3 separate regions of the Homo sapiens genome follow, and all the other regions are linked to region 2. Evidence: fine-mapped expression QTL. A gene starts in region 2. Each other region holds a variant in brackets. All regions are shown on one strand. Distances are between the middles of the regions.

Region 1 (7,535 bases), 110 kb after region 2:
AGATGTTGCTTGGATGTTAGTGGACAGGGATGGGTAAGCATGTGACCTGGGATGTCTAAGGCAGAGTGAATCTCAGGACTATTGTGTGAACTACCAATAAAGACATAGCATTCCTCCTCCACCTCTCCCCCCAACCCCTTGGCCCCTGCACCTTGAGATTTGAACAGGGAAGAATGTAGGCCAAGCTGCTGCAGCCATCTCATGACTACATGTCAAAACTGTAGTCAACAGAGGGAAAAGCAGAGCTGAGAGATTGAGAGACTCACCCAATCTTGATGATATACTTTGAGCCTTGGAGTGAGTACAGCCTGCTAGCCCCATTTCAAGACTTTTCAATTACGTGAACCAATACATTCTCCCTTTAATTTAATAAGCTTTGAGTTGTTCTATTACTTGAAGCAGAATTAGAACTGATATAATTGCTATTTACTTTTTGCTGTGTTCTGCATTCATAATAAATATAAAAAACATAGCAAGATAACCAGGGGCATGTTAATGCAAGGGTGGTAATAGAGAAAGGGGAGGAAGAGGAATAACAAGCCCTCCCCTCAGTTCTTTCATGTCTCCTCTTTTCCTTCGGATTAAAGATCAGATCCCTGAACCAGTATCATCACATTATACTTTTCTAAGTTTTATTTTGTTTTTAACTGACATCTAGTAATTGTGCATGTTTATATTTAAGTGATGTTTCTATACATGTTTACATTATGTAATGATCAAATCAGGGTAATTAGCATATCAATCACTTCAAACATTTGTCATTTCTTTATGGTGAGAATATTCAAAATTCTCTCTTCTATTAATAGCTATTTTGAAATATAGTATATGATATTGTTAACTGTGGTTACCCCACTGTGCAGTAGAACAGTCAGATAAGAGGAATATTATACTTTTAAAAGGATAAATTCCTTTGGGGGCAAGAGCAGGGTCCTGGCTAAGTACATGAGGCCTGCCTGAGGAATTTCTATGGAAACAGGAGTGTGTGTCTGTGGCCCTAGCCCTGCTCAGCATTGGAAACTATTTGGTAGTCTGAACATGGTTCCTCCTGTAAACTAAAAATAAATCTTAAAGCCCTCAACTGACTGAACAGACCCTCCCCACCCCAATCTTGGCCAAATGGACCCTAGATAAATCTTAAAAACTGAGTTCCCAGCCATGATGGCTCAGGAAGTCAGACATATCTTGTTATATACCCTCCCTTTTGCAGTGTTTAGACACAACTGGCCAGCATTGATGTGAAAATAGAGAATGTAAGACTGATAGAACAGACTCTTTGTGGCAGTAAGATACCAAATTGTAAACAGGAGCTAAGACCATGCCAGTCAAGGGTTAAGTCACACACTTCTGCACTTAAAGAATAAACTATGTTCTAAATGCCATAAGGTTTCTATTTTTCTTCAGCAGCTAAACAAGCACTGGCCTTCAGGTAAGCAATATGAAAACAATTTGTAGCTCATTCACTGCCAGACACTGACTCCATCCCCCTGTTTCACAAACTATAGCTACAGCTTTGATTAGACGAGAGGCTATTTCAATAACTTTCTCCTGATAAGAAGACCACCGACCGTGGACGGATTCTGGCCAGTTTACAAAGGCTGCATACGTGAGTGCGTTTGTGTCCTGAAACGACCTTATAAAGCCTTATTATAATATATTTAAATGTTAAGTCTCCACCCCAAGGTGAACATTGGTCAGATGTAATATGTACATTTATTCAGTATGTGTGCATTAGGAGGACCACGAATATTCATGGCTCCTTCTGTAATCCATTGAATATGTTTAGTCAACCCATTCAGCATAAAGTTCCTATCCCAATCCCTCCTCTTTTGAAGTACCTGCCTTTCTGGCGTCAGCCAGAGGCCAGGCTTCCCAGCTTGTCAGAATTTGCCTGTCAACTTTGCAACTGTAACCCTCTATGAGAAATATAACTTTCCTTTCAAAATTTATAAATTGTGTAATTTTTAAGTTAACACCCCTCTAGAAAATGATTCAATTTTCCTTGTCTTTCTTTTCCTTTGTCTTCTGAAGTCAGAAATCCAGAATCTGTTTGTTCTTAGGTCTCAGCCCTTTTATTCTCTCCTATGCTTTCACCAAGGATATTCTATTGTAGCAGACAGTTATGTGAGCTTGCAAAATTAACCATTCATAGACTTTGGCCCCAGAGTTTTTGCTGACTTGAGACCATCAGCACTCAGGATATCAATTTTTTTTTTAAATCCTAGGTATAGAGATGTGAGTTAATCATATTCCTTATTTCATGGCACATTGTAATTATTGAGCTATGCAGACTCTTCTGTGGAAGAGTTGGTTAACTTTCATCCCCATTCTTTATTCCCAGTCCTCTCCTCCTCCCTCAACAGATAAATTATTCTAATGAGTTTACTGTATATGGCTTAACTTGTACAGGTGTTTGTAAAGTATCTATTGTTACTTTTATGTTCATAGAGTTTTACTTTTATGTAAGTGCTATTTTTTTTAGATCTCATTCTTTTTTTTACCTTTTTTTTTCATTTAGTATCCATGTTGCAGTATGTAAGTCTAGTCCATTGCTTCTAATTGTGCTGTTGTTTTGCATCTACTCAGTATACCTCTGCACTTCCCTGGTGATGAACACTCAAATTGCTTCTAATTAATTCCTCAGCACTAAAAATAATGCTGCGACGAACATCCTCTTACATATGTCCATTATGGATCTCTGGGAGACATTTTTGGGGGTCATAAACACAGAAGTAGAATTTCTGGGTGGTAGGCTATATGTATACTTGATATTGACTAGATACTGTCAGATAACTCTCCAGAACAGCTTTACTTTCTTACCAGGAGTACATGAGATTTCCTAAACCCACATCCCAGCCAACACCTAGCAATATCTAGTTTCCTAACTTTTTCCAGCTCATTTCACTGTTATTTTGATTTTGATTTCCCTTATCCATGAGTTTGAACATCTTTATGTATATTTGTAAGCCATTTTGATTACCCTATTCTATACATTGCCTGTTCAAATACTTTGTCCATTTTTCTGTTAATTTTCTTTTTTACTTTAAGAAGTTCATTGTATGTTCTAGACGTTAGTACATTGTTATTTTTAGACACTGCAAATAATTTCAATGTGTCTTCTCTCTGTTAACTTTGTTCGTGGTGTCTTTCACTGAACAGAAATCTTTAATTATGATGTAATAAAAGTCATCACTAGTTTTGTATTATGTGTGCCTGTAAAGTTCTATCTACAATGTTCTTTCCTGTGCTGAGATTACTAAGGTATTTTCCCATATTTTCTTCTCTTTACTTTGTTGTTTTAAGCTTCACATTCAGATATTTATTTCATTTGCAGTCTATCTTTGTATGTGACTTTAGGTAAATATCCAATTTTGTTTTTATCTATGGCATGAGCCAGGTTTGCAACTCCTTCTATTAATCTGCCCTTTTCCCATTGATATATGGTACCCACTTTACTATATATTAAGTTCCCATATAAACATACTTAATTTCTAAGCTCCTTATCATGTTTCACTGATCTTTTTGTCATTGCAATAATATCACATTGTTATTATTACTTGACTGTGTAGTATGTCTTAATACTTGGAAGGGCAAGTACCCATTCTTTGCCTTTTTCTTGAAATGTTGACTTACCTGTTCGTGGATCTTTATTCTTCCATAAAAACTTGAGGTTATTGAACTTCTCAAGAAATTCAACACAAATATTTTGAAGTATTTGTGATTGTGTTGAATGTATAGATTAATATGAACTGACATGTTTATAATATTAAGTCATC[T/C]CCCCCAAGATATGGAATGTCACTCCATTTATTCAGATAATCTTCTATGTCATTTATTAGATTTAAAAATTTTCTCCATGGAAGTATTATATGTTGTCATTATTTTCTAGTTATTTAACATTTTTTGTTGCTGTTCTGAATGATATCTTATTTTTAAATACATTTTGTAATTGGTTATTGTTGGAGAGAAAAGTGCTTTTAATTTTTGTAACTTGATTGTTTCTGATAAACTTGCTGAATTATCTTATTAGTTGTAATACTTTGTTGATTAGGTGCTTTTTTCTAGCTAGAGAGTCATATTATCTTACCTGCAAATAATGTCATTTGTTTTCTTTTTTTTTTTCTACCAATGTATTTATTTCTCTTTCTTTCCTTATAGCATAGGGCAGGGCACCCCACTATGGCAAACACTAATAATGATATTGCTCCTGATTTTGTTTCTGAAGGGAATGCCTCTAAGATTTCTTCATTAATTATAAGGTATACTGTATTTTTTGATATATTAATAAATTTCCATTTATTTCTAGTATGAGTTTTTATCTTTGATATGCATTGAGATTTGTCAAATGTATTTCCTGCATTGAGATGAACATGTTATTTTAATTTTTTTAGTATATTAATGTGACAAATTTTAAAGATAGGTTATGTGATTTTTAATAGTTTTTGCATCCTGTTATCAATCTGAATTAATTATATATGATTATATATGTAATTATATATAATATGTATATAATTATTAAGCATGTATTTTGTAGACAACATGTTGAATCTTTTTTGTAGTTTTTATCAACTATAAATGTCTCTGTTATTTCATTAGTTTAGGCTATTTACATTTTTGAAATTATGTTATTTTAATTATGTTCATTTAACTAACATAGTATTTCTGCCATCCTGTTTCATACTTTGCCTTTTCTATAGGTTGTTTAAATTTTTTTTAAAGGCAATGATTGGCTGATTTTTTCTATTAACAGATAAACTCCAATTAAATAAATAAACAACCCATATTTGACTATATATTGTTTATTAAAAACACACCTAAAACAAATGACAAAGTAAAGATTAAAAGAGAAGGATGTAAAAGATATGGCAGGCAAACACTAATGCAGTTAACAGCAGATTAAAATAGAATTAAAGGTAAAGTGTTTTGGTAATTAAAGGCATAATATATTTTGCAACCTTTTGCAAAGGGTTAAAGAGCAGTAAAAAGTAACAAAAATAACTACAGATAAACTAATGATTTAAAAATAGAATATTATTGTCAGTTATCCCTTCAAAAAGCTGAAAAAATTGAATATTATAAACAACTAAGTACCAGTAATGTTGAAATCAACACAAAATGGATAAGTTAGTAAGAAAATGTCAATTGCCAAGGAATCTATATCTGACTTTCTATTTTCAACCATGAAAGACTGACTGTTTCAAACTCCAAAGTCAGGAGGCCCACCCACTAGTTTTAGCTAGATCTACCAAACCTTTAAGAAATCCACATTTTGCATGAACTATTCCAGTGCACAGAAAAGAATGAAAATTTCCCAACCAATTTTGTCAGGTACAAAAATTAGATAGTGAAAGCCCAAGAACATAAAACTATAGATTAATTTCACTTATGAACACAGAATGCAAATATCCTAATAAAATATTAGCATATCAATTCCAGGAGTGTCCCAAATTTATTTCCCAAATAGAGTTTACCAAAAGATTCCAAGATCTGTTTAACTTTTGAAAATCAATTAATATCATTTAAAAATAAGTGAAAAAAACATATAATCCTTTCAGTAGATTGAACAAGACATTTGATAAAATTTTAAACTCATTTGTAGTAGAACTTTTCAGCAAATTAGGAATAGAAGGGAACTTTCTTAATCTGATATTGGCTATCTAACAGAAATCTATAGCAAACATTATACTCTACTTCAAATACTGAAACATTAGAACAATGTCATTGAAGTCAGAAAGAAGACAAGGATGCCTACTATGAGTACTAATATTTAGATAGTCCTAATCAATAAGAAATGAGGTAGCAATTCCACTTCTGGGTAGTTATCCAAAACAATTGAAAGCAGGGATTTGGACAGATACTTTTTGACCCACGTTCATAGCAGTGTTATCGACAATAGCCAAAAGGTGGAAACAGCCTAAATGTCCGTTTTGTTAATGGATAAACAAAATGTGGTATTTACATACAATGAAATATTATCCAACCTTAAAAAGGAATGGCATTCCAATACATGCTACAACACAGTTGGGTCTTGAAGAAATTATGCCAAGCAAAAGAAGCCAGACACAAAAGGACAAATGTTGTATGACTTCACTTAGATAAGGTACCTAGAGTAGTCAAATTCATTGAAACAGAAAAGAAAATGATGGCTGCTGATGGAAAGGGAGAATGGAGGATTATTGTTGAATGGATACAGAGTTTCAGCTTGGGAAGATGTAAAATTTCTGGAAATGGAAGGTTTTGACTGTTACACAACAATATGTATGTACTAATGCTACTTAATGGTACACCAAGAATGATTAAAATGATAAATTTTATATTATGTGTATCTTACCGCAATAAATAATTTAGAAATGTGGAATCAATGTTGAAAGAAAGATAATTTGTTCATCAGTTTCAGACAAAATGAACCCCCCAAAATTAATTGACAAACATTCAAAGATAATAAGAGTGCAGCAAGATAGTCAAATACACAATCAGAATGAATACGTTCACAGCTTCCTATACAATAGAAATCACCAATTCAAAAATATGATAGAAAAATTCCATTTGTATTAACAACAAAAATAAACCCCCAAATAAACCTAATGAAAAAGTGAAATACTTTTATAGGAAAAAAACTTACAAAAGGATATAAAAGAAAATCTGAATAAATTGTGAAATACAGCATGTTAAGATGACCAGTTGTCTGAGTCAGTTTGGAAAATGTATGGGGGTCTTTAAAAAAAAATGGAATTACAATATGAGCCATCAACTTCACTTCTGAGTGTATAGCCAAAGGAATTAAAATTGGTGTTGAAGAGATATCTGCATTCTCACTTAAACATACCACTTAAAAATGTACACTAAATGTTAGGTGTTTTCTGTGTGTACACACATGTCTATAAAAATATCTTTAAGTTTTCTGGAAAGAATCAAGCCCTATTCCTCAGTGATTATTCCTGGGTACAGAAAAGAAGTTATTGGATTTGGGATGAAGGTCAGAGGAGGCTGTAGCATATATCTACAAATATTCTAATTTTTCAAAGGAAGAATATATTTCTGTATCATTTCATAATTAAAATCAATTTTTAAAACGTTTTTTATTTGCGGCATGTTTTTGTTGAATGAATGCATGGTATGAACTAATAATGATGTGTTCAGTAATTTTCATGCATATAATTAATAGGAGAATAGTTTTGATGACAATTTTATTTATTTACAGTAATATATTGGCTTATTTTACTAGCAGGCTTGCATGTCTGTTTGTTTGTATTTAGAGACTGGGTCTCACTCTGTTGCCCAAGCTGGAGAACAGTGGCACCATCATAGCTCACTGCAGCCTTCAACTTCTGGGCTCAAGTGCTTCTCCCACCTCAGCCTCCCAAGTAGCTGGGACAACAGGTACAGTCCACCAAACCCAGCTAATTTTTTTATTTTTTTGTGTGTGTATAGACAGGTTCTCACTTCATTGCCCAGACTGGTCTCAAACTCCTGCCCTCAAGGAATCCTTCTGCCATGGCCTCTGAGCCACCATACCTGGTGCATGTTTATGTAACGTGTCT
Region 2 (7,535 bases):
GTTGGCCGGAGCTGGGAGACTGCCCTGACCCAGACCCACGCTGGCCGTGGCCTGGAGACTGGCCAGATCCAGAGCTGTGTTGGCCGCGGCCTGAAGAGTGACGGGAGGCAGACTCATGCTGACCATAGCTGGAAGACTGACGTGAGCTGGAGCCATGTTGGCCAGAGCTTGATGCCTGCCCTGACGTAGATCCATGTTGTCCCTGGCTAGAGGAGTGACCTGAGCCAGAACCATGCTTACTATAGCCAGAGGACTGTCCTGAGCCAGACTCATGTTGCCCAAAGCCAGAAGTCTGGCCTGAGCCAGACTCATAATGGCCACGGCTGTAAGAGTAACTTGAGCCAGACCCGTGTTGGCCGTGGCTGGAGGAGTGCCCCGAACCGGACCCATGTCGGACGTGGCTAGGAGACTGGCGAGATCCAGACCCTTGTCGGCCGTGGCCCAAAGACTGACGGGAACCAGACCCATGCTGACCATAGCTGGAAGACGAACCTGAGCTAGATCTGTGTCGTTCACCCCTAGATGACTGTCCTGACCTAGAGCCGTGTTGTCCGTAGCCAGAGGAGTGACCTGAGCCAGATCCATGCTGACTGTAACCAGAGGACTGCCCTGAGCTAGACTTGTGTTGACTAAAGCCAGAAGACTGGCCTGAGCCAGACCCATGTGTGTCATTGCTGGAAGACTGTCCGGAGCCAGAGCCGTGTTGGCCATAGTTGGGAGACTGCCCTGACCCAGACCCACATTGGCCGCGGCCTGAAGACTGATGGGAGTCGGAGTTTTGCTCACCATAGCTGGAAGACTGACCTGAGTAGGAGTTATGTTGGCCAGAAAAGTCTCTTTGAAAACTCAGTCTTCTGGATATGGATTCAGTCCCAGGTTTAAGACTTCCTCTGACGTTTCTGGAATAGGAATCATTCTCTCCTGCACTCCAACTTGAATGACTAAAAGAGGATTCTTGCCGTTTGTTCTCCTCTTTTTCAGTTTCTTCTTGTTCCTCTTGGTGCTGGTGAGTGTCATCTCTCAGCTTTGACCCTGAAACTTGGCAGTAATCTTTGCCAATGATTTTATTACGAGCCTGAACCAGCTTGAATATCATCAGAAGATACTCAGTAAAATCCACTTTCTTGTTATGGTCTCGATCCAGACTTTGCAAGATGATATCCACAGTATCTGGATCGTTTGGATTCTGTATAAGAGAAAGGTACAAAGAGTAGCTCTGTTAGTATGGACAATACATCTGGCTAACGAACTGAAGGAAAGATGTGAAAATGTAAATGTTTGGGTTATTTATATGGAACTCATTCACACAGTCCTTTAGGCTGCATTTCTGTATCCTGAGCAGAAAGAGAAAAAGGAATATGGAATGAATAATGTGGTGGGAAACAGCTAGAATAGGATGCAACTGGAAGATGAAAGGAAACAAGAGGGCTGATTATTTTTGGTAAAGAATGGGTCAAATATGAATGATTAGCTAATTTATAAGTAATATGTTTTTATACCTACATTAATTATATCAACTTTATTTATCCAATTAAATTAACTAGCTACTTAATTTACTCACTGAACAAAGATTTATTATTTTACTAGTTGCCTACCATTATGTCATATGAGAGTATAAAGAAGTGAACAAGTTTGCTTCCTGAAAAAAAATGGAATTTAAAGTTTAGTTGGCCAGATATACAAACTTAAAATTATAATTTATTGTGGTAAGGTTTCTACAAGAGTACATCAGAGAGGAAACATTGGGGGTCCTAGAAAGGTTAATGAGAGGAAATGATGCCTTTTGAAGGATGGATTAGGATTAGCCAAATGAAGAAGTAGGAAGAGAAAGAGAAGGGGAAAAGATTGTTCTAGGCAGAGGGAATTATATGAACAAAGGGCTAGAGGTGAGAGAAGTTATGGAGCATTCAAGGAACTGAAGGAAATTCAGGATTGCTAGATTTAGAGTTTGAAGAGTCAAGAAATGTGGATAGAGAGACAAATAGGGACTAGATTATGACTTTTAAGTTATGTTAAGGAACTTTGTACTTCATTTTAAGAGCAATTGGGAACTATTGAAGGATTTTTAGCTGAGGAGTGAAATGATTATATTTGCATCCAATGCTGAGAGTAGAAGTAGTAGGTGGCCTGAACCAGAGGACTAATAATAGTGATGAAGAGAAATGGGTTGTTTTGAGAGATTATTGATGAGTTAGATGGAGGTTAGAAGGTAGTGGTGTCTGCTGAGAGAGAGACAATAAAAAATGACACCAGGTTTTTGCTTTGGGCAAAAAGATGAAGGAAAAAGGTTAGTGGGGAAGATTATGAGATTCATAGCTGACACACTGAATATCTGACATCTGATATCTGAATATCATATCTGAAATCCACAGAAATCCAAATTTAAGGAATTGAAACTCAGGAGTCTGATATAAGGTCCCAAATATCTAAGCTATCAAATCTAGACCTGACAGTTTTAAGGTGGTGGACACATTCTTTTGTGATTCAGGAGTAAATGCCAATTTCCTGAACTCAGAAATCTACTTCACAGTTTTTCTGAGGACTGTCTGGGTTTGTAGGAATTAGTCACTTAGATAGGACATTATTTAACCTGTGGGTTTTGTTTGTTGTTTAGTAAGGTCACTTCCGTTAGTTATGCTATGGAAACCATCACGGATCTGCTTTTGACCTTATCTCAAACTTTTACCAAACCCTGTTCTCTCTCACCAAGTAAGGACAATCCTCTAGGATGTTTGACATATGTGACAAGAAGGTGGAAAGGGATAAAGAAGAAAATTCCTGCATAACTCCATCCTGGCGTGGAGTTCTTACCTTCAGAATTTGATGAAACTCATTTTCCAGAAGTTCTTTCAGCTCTGCCTTGTTCAACGTATCATACTCCCCATGCTGGGTGGCATATTGGTAGAAAACATCGATGACAGTGATGACGCCTTGTAGGAGTTTAGGCATTTTTTTTTTTGCAAGTTTGAGTAACCTAAAGGGAGGAAAAAGAGAGACCAACCCCTTACTATTCTTATTTCTTGTTTAAACACATAAATAGTTCTAATTATTTATAATAATTGTTCAGAATTAGTCAGTCATGATTAAATTCATTCTGTTGTAATCAAGAACCAATTCAGAGTTGAATGACTTGTTCAAGCCATGTAGCAAGAGAGTGATGAAATTAGGAATATAATCCATAGGTCTTATTTCCATTCCTGAATGAATGTAGGAAAAATGACTTTCTGTTTTTGGCTTCCTGCCATTACCAGGGATAATATTAGCTTTGTTCTGGAGCTGTAGAAGTCCTGAGTGTTCCACTTCATCTGCTTCCTCTTTCTAGGTTCGAAGCATACTGTGGGCATAGGTCCATCATCTACATGACATGCCTTACTCAACCTAAGGAGCATCAATGGCTGAACTGAACTCTCAAGACTTCTAGGTCAGAGAAAATAGACAATGTGAGCAAAGCCAACAAGCCTAGGTGATATGAAGCTAAGGGTAACTGCTATTAGATCCAGCTTCTGTTCTCATTCTCCAAGCAGGAAGTGACCCTCAGACCTTATTACACAATAGAGAGGAAAAGCTCAGTTGTAAAGAAGGCAACCTGCCTGTGGATAATTAGAACCCCATGATATCCATGTTATAAGGGAAGCGACCTCAAAGAAAGGAGATAATATACATAGTCCTAGTCTTTGTTTCATTTTTCTTTTCAGTAAATTTAAACTTATACCAAAGTTCCCCAGAGTATACTAAAAAGAAGCCTTGTATCTAGTGCCTCTTTGCCTTAGAGCACATCCTGGACTTTCATAATTTATAGCCCTAAGTACCCTTGAGCGGAGTTGAACTGCTCACTTACCTAGCTCACCAGAGGAACAAGTAGGGTAGAGACAGAAACAGCTTTCAGGGTGCTGCGAGTTGGGCAGAGTGGCCTTTTTATAGAGGGAATAATGGTCCCTCTTAGGGAGGAGTTGCTAATTTTGAGATGTCCTAATTTACTCCTAAACAAGCCCATCTCCACCTCTATCTCCACCTCCCAGGTGTTTACCTTCTTCCTGACTTCCTTACAGGTTCACCTAAGATTGCATTAGCAGTTCCCAAATCTGGGCTACTCTCAGCCCCACCTGCCAAAGGGTCAGGACACTGCAGAAAGGCCTGTTTTTGTATTCATCAAACTATCTAGCACAATATATTGACAACAAATTGTGTGGATTTTAATAGAAGTTGAATGGAGTGTGTGCAGGGACATCATGGCCCAAATGTCAAAAAATCATGGAAATTGATGATTAAAAGGACTGTAAAGATCATCTAGTCAAACTCTCCCATTCTAAGCTAAATGTTCTTAAATGGTATTCCAGCCAAAGTGTCATCTTTGGTATTGTTATTACCTTTTGAATTGGATAATGGCTCCAGGCCATCCTTTAACTCATTAAGTACCTCAATTTACCAGACCCCTTATTGGCCATTCATCACCATAGCTTTCATTTCAAACACCATATAACCTTAGGAAGAAATGCGTGCTTGTTAGCATGGTATCCATGGTTCCTCATGATCTGGGCTGTGGCTTTTTTCCAGCTCCATTTCTCCCCTCCATATTTCTCTTTGTACTCCAACAGTAATTAACTAGTAATATTTCAAACTTCCTCAATATACCATGGGATATGTTATTTCATATTTTTTCTTAGAATGTCTTTCCTCATTGTCTGCCTAGTGAACTAATTATTCTTCAAAATCCAATTTAGGCTTCCCATAGAAAATCTTTCCTGAATTACTCAAGAGGGAGTTGTAATTGTGTACCTTATTCATATTTATTGTTGTATCAATCATACTATATTGTAATCTTTAAAAATTGTTTTACTATACAATTATTGTTTAATATAAAAATTAGAAAATATTGATAAGCAAATAAGATAAAATCAAAATACCTTTAAAGCCACTAGCCAAAAATAACTACTGTTAGTTATTTGTTGTATATCCTTGCCTTTCACAAACACACACATTCACACACAGACACACACATTTGTCTATGGGCTTATTTCATTTCTAGGCTATGAGCTCCTTGAGAATAAGGAATGGACATTATTTATCCTTATGTCATTTGGAGACCTAGTATACTGCTTGTCACATAACGGTCTCCAATAAATGTCAGTTTGAATTCATTTGAAAGAGAAGCAAGGATCAAGACTATAGTCCTCTGCATTGGCCAACTTCCATCTTTTCACAGGAGGACTAGGGTCTGCCCTCTCTCTTGCCATCTTTGCCTCAGAGGACATGATTTTACCTGAATATAAACGGAATCTTAGCATTGAGAATCAATGAGTGGCTTTCTGCTTTTTTCTGAGGCCCTCGCTCTGCATTTCTTCCATTGTGAACATATAACACAAATTTCACTGAAGGTGTGTGAAGTTACATGGACTTAAAACTTGTGCAATATGGTCATCAGGATTTGAGAAGGTGTGGTAGCAACTGTTGGCAAGTGATAAATTACATGATTCCAAATTCAACTATTGTTAGGCTATGTGTTTTCTTTTAAGAATTGCCCAGAGGGCTGCAGAGTCAGTATCCATTCTGTAGCCGTGTTTCCTCTGGACATCTGATTGGGCCAGGTTTTCATGCTTCATCAGAACAATGACTTTTTAAAGGTGTGGCTGAGACTGTGGGAGTAAAGGGGGGTGGAATTTGCTGAGTGAAGACTGATTTCCTGCAGGAACCAGCTGTTGTCACGAAGGGAGGAGAGGGTTGTGAGAGAAGACTATTCCAGGTGAACGTGCTCTTGGGGCTAGTGTTCTCCTGAAATAGGGGCCAGCAAACTTTTTTTTTTGTAAAGGGCCAGATGGTACAAAATATTATCTCTGCAGGACAGATAGTTTTTGTTGCAACTACTCAACTCTGCTATTGTAGCATAAAAGCAGCCATAGATGATATGTAAACAAATGAGCATGGCTATGTTTCAGTAAAACTTATTTATCAATACTGATCTTTGAATGTCATATAATTTCACATATCATATATTTTTTCAACCGCTTACAAATGTAGAAAACCTTTTTATCCTGTAGGCTACACAAAAATGGATGACAAGCTAGCTATGAACTGCAGGCTGTAGTTTACCACTCTTTGCTCCTCTTCTGTATTTGCTTTTCAGGAAGATTCTCTGGGAGAGGAGGATCTGAGAGAAAAGAAGGGCTGAAAAGTGTGGGACATCAGAACCACTAACTCTTGCATGAGAGAACAAGAGTGAAGGTGAATTTGTAAATATCAGCATGTGTGGGGTGGTGGGGAAAGGGAACAGAACAAGGGACCTTTGGCTGCTCGTAAAAGGGAGATAAATTTTGATTTGATGTAAGGGAGAAATATTTAATATTTGCATTGACTGAAAATGCAGTGAGCTCTTTGTGAAGTAACTGAATTTATTGTCAAGTATCATATGAATAGTTTTTTACTATTAAAGAAAAAATTAATTCTTTCATTACGTTGTTTTCTGGATATGCTCACCAACTAGAATTTTGTTGGGCTTTTTTTCCTCGTTTGTATCATGAAAATAAGAAGCATATTACATATGCGTCTTGGTCTCTTCTCTCCCCATTGAGAATTACTTATTAAGAGTAGGACTAGATTATCACAAAAGTCACTTTCAAAACAGTTTCTTGTTTTTTTTAGAGTGTGTGCTCCATAGTAACAGAGTTGGACATGAAGATTCCTCCATCATGGGTTTGGTTAGTGGTTTTTCCACTTGGAGATGATAGGTTTCAGGAGAAAAGCTTTTCTATGGTATGTGCCATGTTCTAGGTTTTTGAGTGCCTTTCTCTGTGTGTTGGCAGAAGAATGAAAATTACATTCCTTTTTATGACAAGCACAGTGCTTTGTGTGTGGGTGTACATTGTTTCATTAATTCTTACAACAACCCTGTTATCTAGATATTATATTTCCATTTTGCAGATGAGAAAACTGAGGCTCAGATGAAATCTGTAACTTGTTTCAAGTCACTTAGCTGTTAAGTGGAGAAGACAGAATTCAAATTCAAATCTGCTTTTTCCTAGGAATAGTCAGCAAGTAGGGAAATATTCATGTCTTGGTAAAGGAAGGGTTTTGGAAACAGTTCTTCAGGAATGGAGTGTTTCACCTAGGAAAAACAAACAAACAAAACTAGCAAGGATAAACAGTGAAGTTCCAGTACCATCTGTGTGCACTCATTTTTTTCTGCCTGTCTGGAAGGCAGAGTAATGTGCCTATTGCACCATCTGCTGGGTCATAGGGAAATTCTAAAGCAGATCTTTTCTTCATTGCCTTTTCTGCCCTTTTTCCTTACAGAAATTATTTCATGGAATTTCTATAGTTCTTTGTAGCCTAGTCTCTATAAATGAGGAGACTATGTAAAAAATAGGGGTATGTATATAAGAGAAGGTTGATGGTCATGATTTTGGGTAAATGGAATCAAAAGAAGTTAGCTATAATATGAAACTGGTTAAATAGTGCTTCCTTCTATATCCTCTTTTGAGTCCTTTTTACTGTTATCTCAAAAAATAAAAAATGGATTCGATATAATTTTACAGCTTAGT
Region 3 (7,535 bases), 29 kb before region 2:
TCCCTTCATGCCTACACTTGCTGGGAGGATATTGTGGTGCCTTGTGTTAAAAGTCCTGGGTTATGGCATATGTGAAACAGCCGCGAAGGACAGAAGACTATTTTTACGTAATTAATTGCCTGGGAACTAGTTGTTTAAAGGAGAAGGGTGTTCGGTAAGCCTGAGTGGGTAAGAATGAGGAAGGTGGAACTTGAGCCTGGTCTTGAGGGATGGGTAGAATTAACAGGTGTAGGGGAGAGAACAGGGTTGGGGGTGAACTTGTTATGTTGTGAGCCAGTAAGGAGATTAGCCTAAGTGGAATGGAGAAGATGTGTTTGGGAGTGGTGGTGGGAAGAGGATAGATAGGCAGGGCTGGATTGGAGCAGAGCCTGGAGCATCAGCTTGAGAAGTTTGCATTACAACATCATAAATTATTTTTAAATATTTTATGGTTCTTGGGAAGCTGGCATGAAGGCACAATGACAATGTGTCATTAAGATCTGTATATCTACCTGCCTATCTTTGATCATCTCAAATTTGCTTTGTCCCTGAATGCCCCATATGAAAGAGGTTCCCTTGGTTATTTTTTCACAGCATTGTGTTCCTTACTTATTTACTTTTTCAGTTTTTTCTAGTGTGCCCTAGAATGAATGTTGCCAGGAGGCAAGGACTTGTTCTGCCTCCTTGTTGAATGCCCAGAATGTACAACAGTTTCAGATACACATTCAATGCTTTAAAAATATTTGTTGAATGAATGAATGCCCTGAGCTAAGTTTATTTCTTTAAACCTGATCTATTCTACCTTCTGAATTCTTGAATTCTGTTAGTGCTAACACCATCCATTTGGTCTGCTAAGTTGGATACTTGGAGTCAATTTTGATGAAGACATGAGTACAGGTCTTGACCATTCTTAAACTTTACATGAGGATTGTATTCCCACTGAAGCCTTGTTTTTTACTCCATTATGCCAAGTTAACACAATGTAACGTGTTGCATTTTCAATATGAAGACAGAAAACATCAAACATGAACAGTGAGGCTAAAGGAATGAGAAGTTATTGGGAGCCAGGGCCATGGGCAAATTGTAAACTGTGTGTATCTAAATGTAACCATCATATTATCTGTTCTGTCCTCTTCCAAGGGGAAGAATCATGTAATGGTTAAGAACATGGTCCCTGGAGTTAGGCTGCCTGGGCTCAAATTCTGGCTCAGCCACTTACTAGCAGTGTACCCTTGGGAAAGCTGCTTAACTTCTCTGTTTCTCAGTTTTCTCATCTATAATATATGGGTAAGAATAATACTTACAGAGTTATTGTGAGGATTAATATGTGGGAAGTTCTTAGAGCAGTGCTAGCATATAGTAAATGCTCATCAAATGTTATTATTAGCTATATTAGCTATTATTAGCTGTTAATATTTAGTGGGCCATTGAAACAACATAGGCTCTATTGCCATTTGGGCTGCTGATCTGAAACAGGTGGCCAGACTTCATTGAGGGATGACCTTTGCAAGGTGTGATTGAGGGTATGGGATTGAAGGAAATTTGGGATTTTTTGAGTGAGGACTGAGTTCCTGCAGGAGATATAGTCACCCCAAAGGGAGTTACCAGGTCCAGATGGAATTATTTCCAGTGGAATGTGCACACAAATTCTTTGACACAAGTAAGGAAGTATTACTACTTAGTTATCTATATGTGAATCTGCACAGAAAACTGAAAGAACTCTGTTGCTACCTTGCTTTTGCTTTTTTGAGGGAGAAGACAATCAAGTGTGAAGCCAGGCAAACCTTTGAACATTGTTATTAAGGCAGAAAAAGCCTTCTTCCTCTACTTTCCCATCCTCTCCTTCCTCACTGTCTGTTTCTCCCTCTCTGTAAACACAATGGGACATTTCATTTCAAGAGTGTGTCTTGTTGAGGTGGGGCAGAAGGGTTTGGTGGTTTTATCAGACTGTTTAACCATAAAACGTTTTTCATCCCTGTGTTCCTGTGCCCCACCATTTCAGGCACTTGGTATTTTTACTGCCTCACCCCCATCAACAGAGAAAAGGTGGATTTGATGTCATTTATTATATACTTTAAAGTAATTTTATTTTGCTGAATTTGTAAATACATGCAAATGAAATATTTTAGAGCTACAAAAACAACCATGGCCAGATATGTATGAACGAGGTCTTTCCCAGTCCCCCTCTGGGTTTTGCACAGATTTATTCTGAGGGTCCCTTAGTCCAAACTGGGGGATCCGCAGACAAAGAGATCAATATTTTTCTCTTCTAAATTCAAAAGGCAAGGTGCAGGTATGAGACATTAAAGTTTGAAAGAAGACGCTACTGGGAACATTTTTTTCCTTCTACTCCACCCCTATCCAGAATAGAAAAAAGACCATCTAAACAAGAGTGGAGAGGAGTTTGGAGAAAAAGTAGAGTAGGTTGTAGTGTATGGGCTGGGCCTGTGCTCTTCCCTTGCCCCAGACTGAGTGTGAGGAGTGGTGAATAAGAACACCACAAACCTGTCTGTACGTATGGGAATCCCAGAGCTGAGAGGACACGTGTCTCCTTTTCTTAGTGTCACCAAGATGACTGCAAACCCTGTAGAGAGGCCCTTCAGTGCTGTGGAGTGGAAAACTTGGTTTCACATGTTTGGCCTTGCTTGTTGGAGAAATTCAGACCCCTGAGTTTCTCTTAGCCCTAAAATGGCATGAGAGGACATCTGAAATTATCAATTATTCTTGTTCCCTTCTTAGATTCTTGCTTGTCTTCCTTTTCATCATTCTGATCTATCTTTAAGAGAGGTCACTTTTCAAATTCTATCTTTAAGAGGTTTTAGGTCTCAATATATTGGGTTTTCCCTTCAATATGGGTCCATTTTGGACTCTAAACCTCAAGTTTCCTTTTATGTGGTTCCCTCTTTACATTTATTCCTTGATACTTTCCCAGACCTGTTTCCAGAACCAAAACCATCTCTTCATTTAAAATATTCTGAAATTTCTTTATCTACTCCCTTAAGTCATTTCACTCTTTCTGAGCCAATTTGATTTTCCAAGATTTTACTGATTGGCCCTTAGCTTTGTGATAATGTCCTTCAGCATTCCTTCCTCTTTGGTGCAGTTGGCAGTTTCATGTCCAATATATTAGGGCCCCAGT[C/T]ATCACTGCCATTCTTTTCTTTTCTCTTCTCTTCTCTTTTCCCTTTCTTTTCCTTTCCTTGCCCTGCCCTCCCCCATCCCCCCTCCTCACCCCTCCCCATCCCCCTCTCCCCTCCCCACCCCCCCTTTCTTCTTTTCTTTTCTTTTCTTTTTTTTTTTTTCCTCTTTTGAATATTTAATTTGGAATGAAATTGGCAATCATACAATATAACAATTGTATATGTTCAGGTTTAAAAGATAGAGTCAAACACTTTTCCAAATTGATGGTAACAGTTTATGTTCCCAAGAGCAGTGTATGAATGTTCCAGTTGATCTACATTCATGATGTTTGTCTTTTTTATTTTAGCCATTTCAATGGATGTGTATTGGTATACTATCGTGGTGTTAATTTCCTGTTCTCAATTGACAAGTGAAATGGACTACATTTCACATGCTTCTTAGCCATTTGGATATCTTTTTTGTGAAGTGCCTGTTCAAGGTGTTTGCCCATTTTTCTTTTTTCTTTTTTTGGAAAGGAAAAAATAAATCTCTCTTTGCTAGAAGATTTATAATCACCTATATACAAAATAAAAAAACTATTTAAAACGCTACTAGAAATAATAAGTGAGTTTAGGATAATTTGAGGATAGAAACTCAATATACCAAAATCAATTATACTTCTACATACTAACAGTGAACAATCAGAAAGTTTAAAAGTTTAAATGCTATTTACAATAGCTTCCAAAATCATCAAATACATAGAAATAAATCTAACTGAATCTGTGCAAGATTTGTATAATGAAAATTACAAAACCCTGAAGAGAGAAATTAAAGAATACTTAATAGAGAGATATACTATATTATTGGATTAATATTGGGAAGATGTCAATTCTGCCCAAATTGATCTTTAGATTTCTTTCTTTCTTTTTTTTTTTATTGATCATTCTTGGGTGTTTCTCACAGAGGGGGATTTGGCAGGGTCATAGGACAATAGTGGAGGGAAGATCAGCAGATAAACAAGTGAACAAAGGTCTCTGGTTTTCCTAGGCAGAGGACCCTGCGGCCGGCCTTCCGCAGTGTTTGTGTCCCTGGGTACTTGAGATTAGGGAGTGGTGATGACTCTTAACGAGCATGCTGCCTTCAAGCAGCTGTTTAACAAAGCACATCTTGCACCGCCCTTAATCCATTTAACCCTCAGTGGACACCGCACATGCCCCAGCAAGCACAGGGCTGGGGGCAAGGTCACAGATCAACAGCATCCCAAGGCAGAAGAACCCCTCCCAGTACAGAACAAAATGAAGTCTCCCATGTCCACTTCTTTCTACACAGACACAGCAACAATCTGATCTCTCTATCTTTTCCCCACCTTTCCCACTTTTCTATTCCACAAAACCGCCATCGTCATCATGGCCCATTCTCAATGAGCTGTTGGGTACACCTCCCAGACGGGGTGGTGGCCGGGCAGAGGGGCTCCTCACTTCCCAGAAGGGGCAGCTGGGCAGAGGCGCCCCCCACCTCCCTCTTGGATGGGGTGGCTGGCCGGGCGGGGGCTGAACCCCCACCTCCCTCCCGGACGGGGCGGCTGGCGGGGCGGGGGCTGAACCCCCACCTCCCTCCCGGACGGGGCGGCTGGCGGGGCGGGGGCTGAACCCCCACCTCCCTCCCAGACGGAGTGGCTGCCAGGCGGAGACGCTCCTCACTTCCCAGACGGGGCGGCTGCCGGGCGGAGGGGCTCCTCACTTCTCAGACGGGGCGGCTGCCGGGCGGAGGGGCTCCTCACTTCTCAGACGGGGCGGCTGCCGGGCGGAGGGGCTCCTCACTTCTCAGACGGGGTGGCTGCCGGGCGGAGGGGCTCCTCACTTCTCAGACGGGGTGGCTGCTGGGCGGAGACACTCCTCACTTCCCAGATGGGGTGGCTGCCGGGCGGAGGGGCTCCTCACTTCCCAGACGGGGTGGCTGCCGGGTGGAGGGGCTCCTCACTTCTCAGACGGTGCGGCTGCCGGGTGGAGGGGCTCCTCACTTCTCAGGTGGGGCGGCTGCTGGACGGAGGGTCTCCTCACTTCTCAGACGGGGTGGCCGGGCAGAGACACTCCTCACCTCCCAGACGGGGTCGCGGCAGGGCAGAGGCGCTCCCCACATCTCAGACGATGGGCGGCCGGGCAGAGACGCTCCTCACTTCCTAGACGGGATGGCGGCCGGGCAGAGGGGCTCCTCACATCCCAGACGATGGGCAGCCAGGCAGAGACGCTCACTTCCCAGACGGGGTGGTGGTCAGGCTGAGGCTACAGTCTTGGCACTTTGGGAGGCCAAGGCAGGCGGCTGGGAGGTGGAGGTTGTAGCTAGCCGAGATCACGCCACTGCACTCCAGCCTGGGCAACATTGAGCACTGAGTGAACGAGACTCTGTCTGCAATCCTGGCACCTCAGGAGGCTGAGGCTGCTGGATCACTCGCGGTTAGGAGCTGGAGACCAGCCCGGCCAGCACAGCGAAACCCCGTCTCCACCAAAAAAATATGAAAACCAGTCAGGCGTGGCGGCACGCGCCTGCAATCGCAGGCACTCGGCAGGCTGAGGCAGGAGAATCAGGCAGGGAGGTTGCAGTGAGCCGAGATGGCAGCAGTACAGTCCAGCTTCGGCTCGGCATCAGAGGGAGACCGTGGAAAGAGAGGGAGAGGGAGACCGTGGGGAGAGGGAGAGGGAGAGGGAGAGCGAGAGCTTTTCTTTCTTTCTTTCTTTTTCTTTCCTTCCTCCCTTCTTTCTTTCCTTTTCTTTCCTTCCTCCCTTCTTTCTTTCCTTCCTTCTTTCTTTCCCCTCTCTCTTTCCTCTCTTTCTTTCTTCTTCTCCTCTTCCTCCTCCCCCTCCTCCTCCTTCCCCTTCTCCTCCTTCTCCTTCTTTCTTCTTTCTTTCCTCTTCTTCCTTCTTCTTTCTTCTTCTTTTTTCTCCCTTCCCCCTTCCTTTTTCCCCTTCCCCCTTCCTCCTTCCTTCTCTCTCCTTTCTCCCTCTTCTCTTCCTCCTTCCCCTCCTTTCTTCTCCCTTTCTTCTCTTCCTCCTCCTCCTCATCTTCTTCTCCTCCCCCCTCCTCCTTTCTTTCTTCTCCTTCTCCTCCTCCTCTTTCTTTCTCTTTCTTTCCTTTCTTTCCTTTATTTCTTCCTCCTCCTCCTTCTCCTCTTCCTTTCTCCTCTTTTCTTCTTTCTTTTTCTTTCTTCCATTTGTTCTTTCTTCCTCTCTGTCTCTCTTTCTTTCTTTTGTCTTTCATTCATTTGTTCTTTCTTTCTCTCTCTTTCTTTTTTCTCTCTCTTTTTTTTTCATTTGTTGTTTTCTTTCTCCCTTCCTTCCTTCCTCTTTTCTTTCTCCCTCCTCCTCTTCATGATCCTCCTTCTCCTTCTTGTTCTTTTGGCTTATTGGTAAAATCTACTGCTCCTTTCTGATTGAACCCATAGCTTTGGGTCAATGAATTACAAAGTTAGAGTTTCAGTAGGATTTTTGAAGTAACTACCTCCTCACCTTAACCGAAACTAGACTTTTCCTGAATGATACTACTTTTCAGCAGTTCCAAGTACAGGTTACACATTCTCCCTCTGTTGTGTTGTGGCTAGAGGTGCGTTGAACATGATTTTGTTGCTCACCACTGTGGCTTCTTTCAATAAACACTCCTTCATTGATGCACATACATTCCACCCTCTTTCCATCCTTACTTTTTCCTTGACTGATCTCCTTCCCCTATAACCACATAATCTTCAGTGAAGACTTTGGCAACTGTCTATTTCTTTCCACCCTAGCTATTATAATCATTCTGGAAAACTTCAACAGTCATGTTGGTGATGCATCTGGATCCATCATTTCTTACACTCTATTGATCTCTACCTCCACTCTACCTCAGCCAGCTATTCAAATGACCACCCCCTGGACCTTGTCATCAACCATAACTGCTCCACCTCTGAAGCTGTGAACCCTGAAATGTCACTCATTGATCACACAGAATGGCCTTTTAGCTCTCCTACTCTTAAGTTCCCACTAAGCCTGTTCTTAAAAAATAGTCTTTTTATTTTTATCTTGAGTAATTGCATGGCTACCATCTAGAGCTGACAGTAGTAAACTTTTTGTTGTATTTGCTTCAGGTCTTATTAAAATGAATAAAACATTGCAGGTAAATTTAAGTCTCCTGTGTTTCTCACCCCCAAGTTCTAATCTTTTTTTTTTCTTATCAGAAGTACCACCAAAATTAATTTGGTAAATATGTGTGATGTATGTGTATAAATATATGTGTATATATATGTATAAAATATGTAACTACATTTTAAAATTTATGTAATGTAGTGTACATATTAATAGTTTGCAACTTGATTTTCACTCAAAGTTATTATGTTTTTAAAATCTATGTGTATATATAATAGTTATTTTCTTCTAGGTGCACTGTAGCTTTCCAATATAAGAATATAG

Direction of the effects. Alleles are on the strand shown, and positions count from the first base shown. SD is a standard deviation of normalised expression in the study named. Not every link is listed here.
In carriers of allele T in region 3, the expression in coronary artery of the gene that starts at base 3,889 in region 2 tends to be higher than with C alone (large effect, 0.88 SD a copy in GTEx).

The links. PIP is the estimated chance that this variant, and not a neighbour inherited with it, causes the effect. A credible set is the group of variants that fine-mapping cannot tell apart.
Region 1: its variant is the best candidate, but not a certain one, in a credible set for the expression of HRNR in visceral fat (GTEx, PIP 0.71).
Region 3: its variant is the best candidate, but not a certain one, in a credible set for the expression of HRNR in coronary artery (GTEx, PIP 0.87).

The regions. Positions count from the first base shown.
Region 1 is chr1:152,333,837-152,341,371 of GRCh38, forward strand. It overlaps CCDST (cervical cancer associated DHX9 suppressive transcript), which reads left to right. Exons shown (of 8, transcript NR_186765.1): 5 at 1,503-1,603; 6 at 4,153-4,253; 7 at 7,251-7,374. Among named protein-coding and RNA genes, the nearest start is that of FLG, 12 kb to the left of the region's middle. The variant T/C (reference allele first, on the strand shown) is at 3,774.
Region 2 is chr1:152,220,305-152,227,839 of GRCh38, forward strand. It overlaps HRNR (hornerin), which reads right to left and starts at 3,889. Exons shown (of 3, transcript NM_001009931.3): 1 at 3,839-3,889; 2 at 2,812-2,974; 3 at 1-1,186. The coding sequence starts at 2,949. The region is part of intron 1 of CCDST (cervical cancer associated DHX9 suppressive transcript); the gene reads left to right.
Region 3 is chr1:152,191,460-152,198,994 of GRCh38, forward strand. All of the region lies in intron 1 of CCDST (cervical cancer associated DHX9 suppressive transcript), which reads left to right. Among named protein-coding and RNA genes, the nearest start is that of CCDST, 5.9 kb to the left of the region's middle. RefSeq lists an enhancer at 4,850-5,350. The variant C/T (reference allele first, on the strand shown) is at 3,119.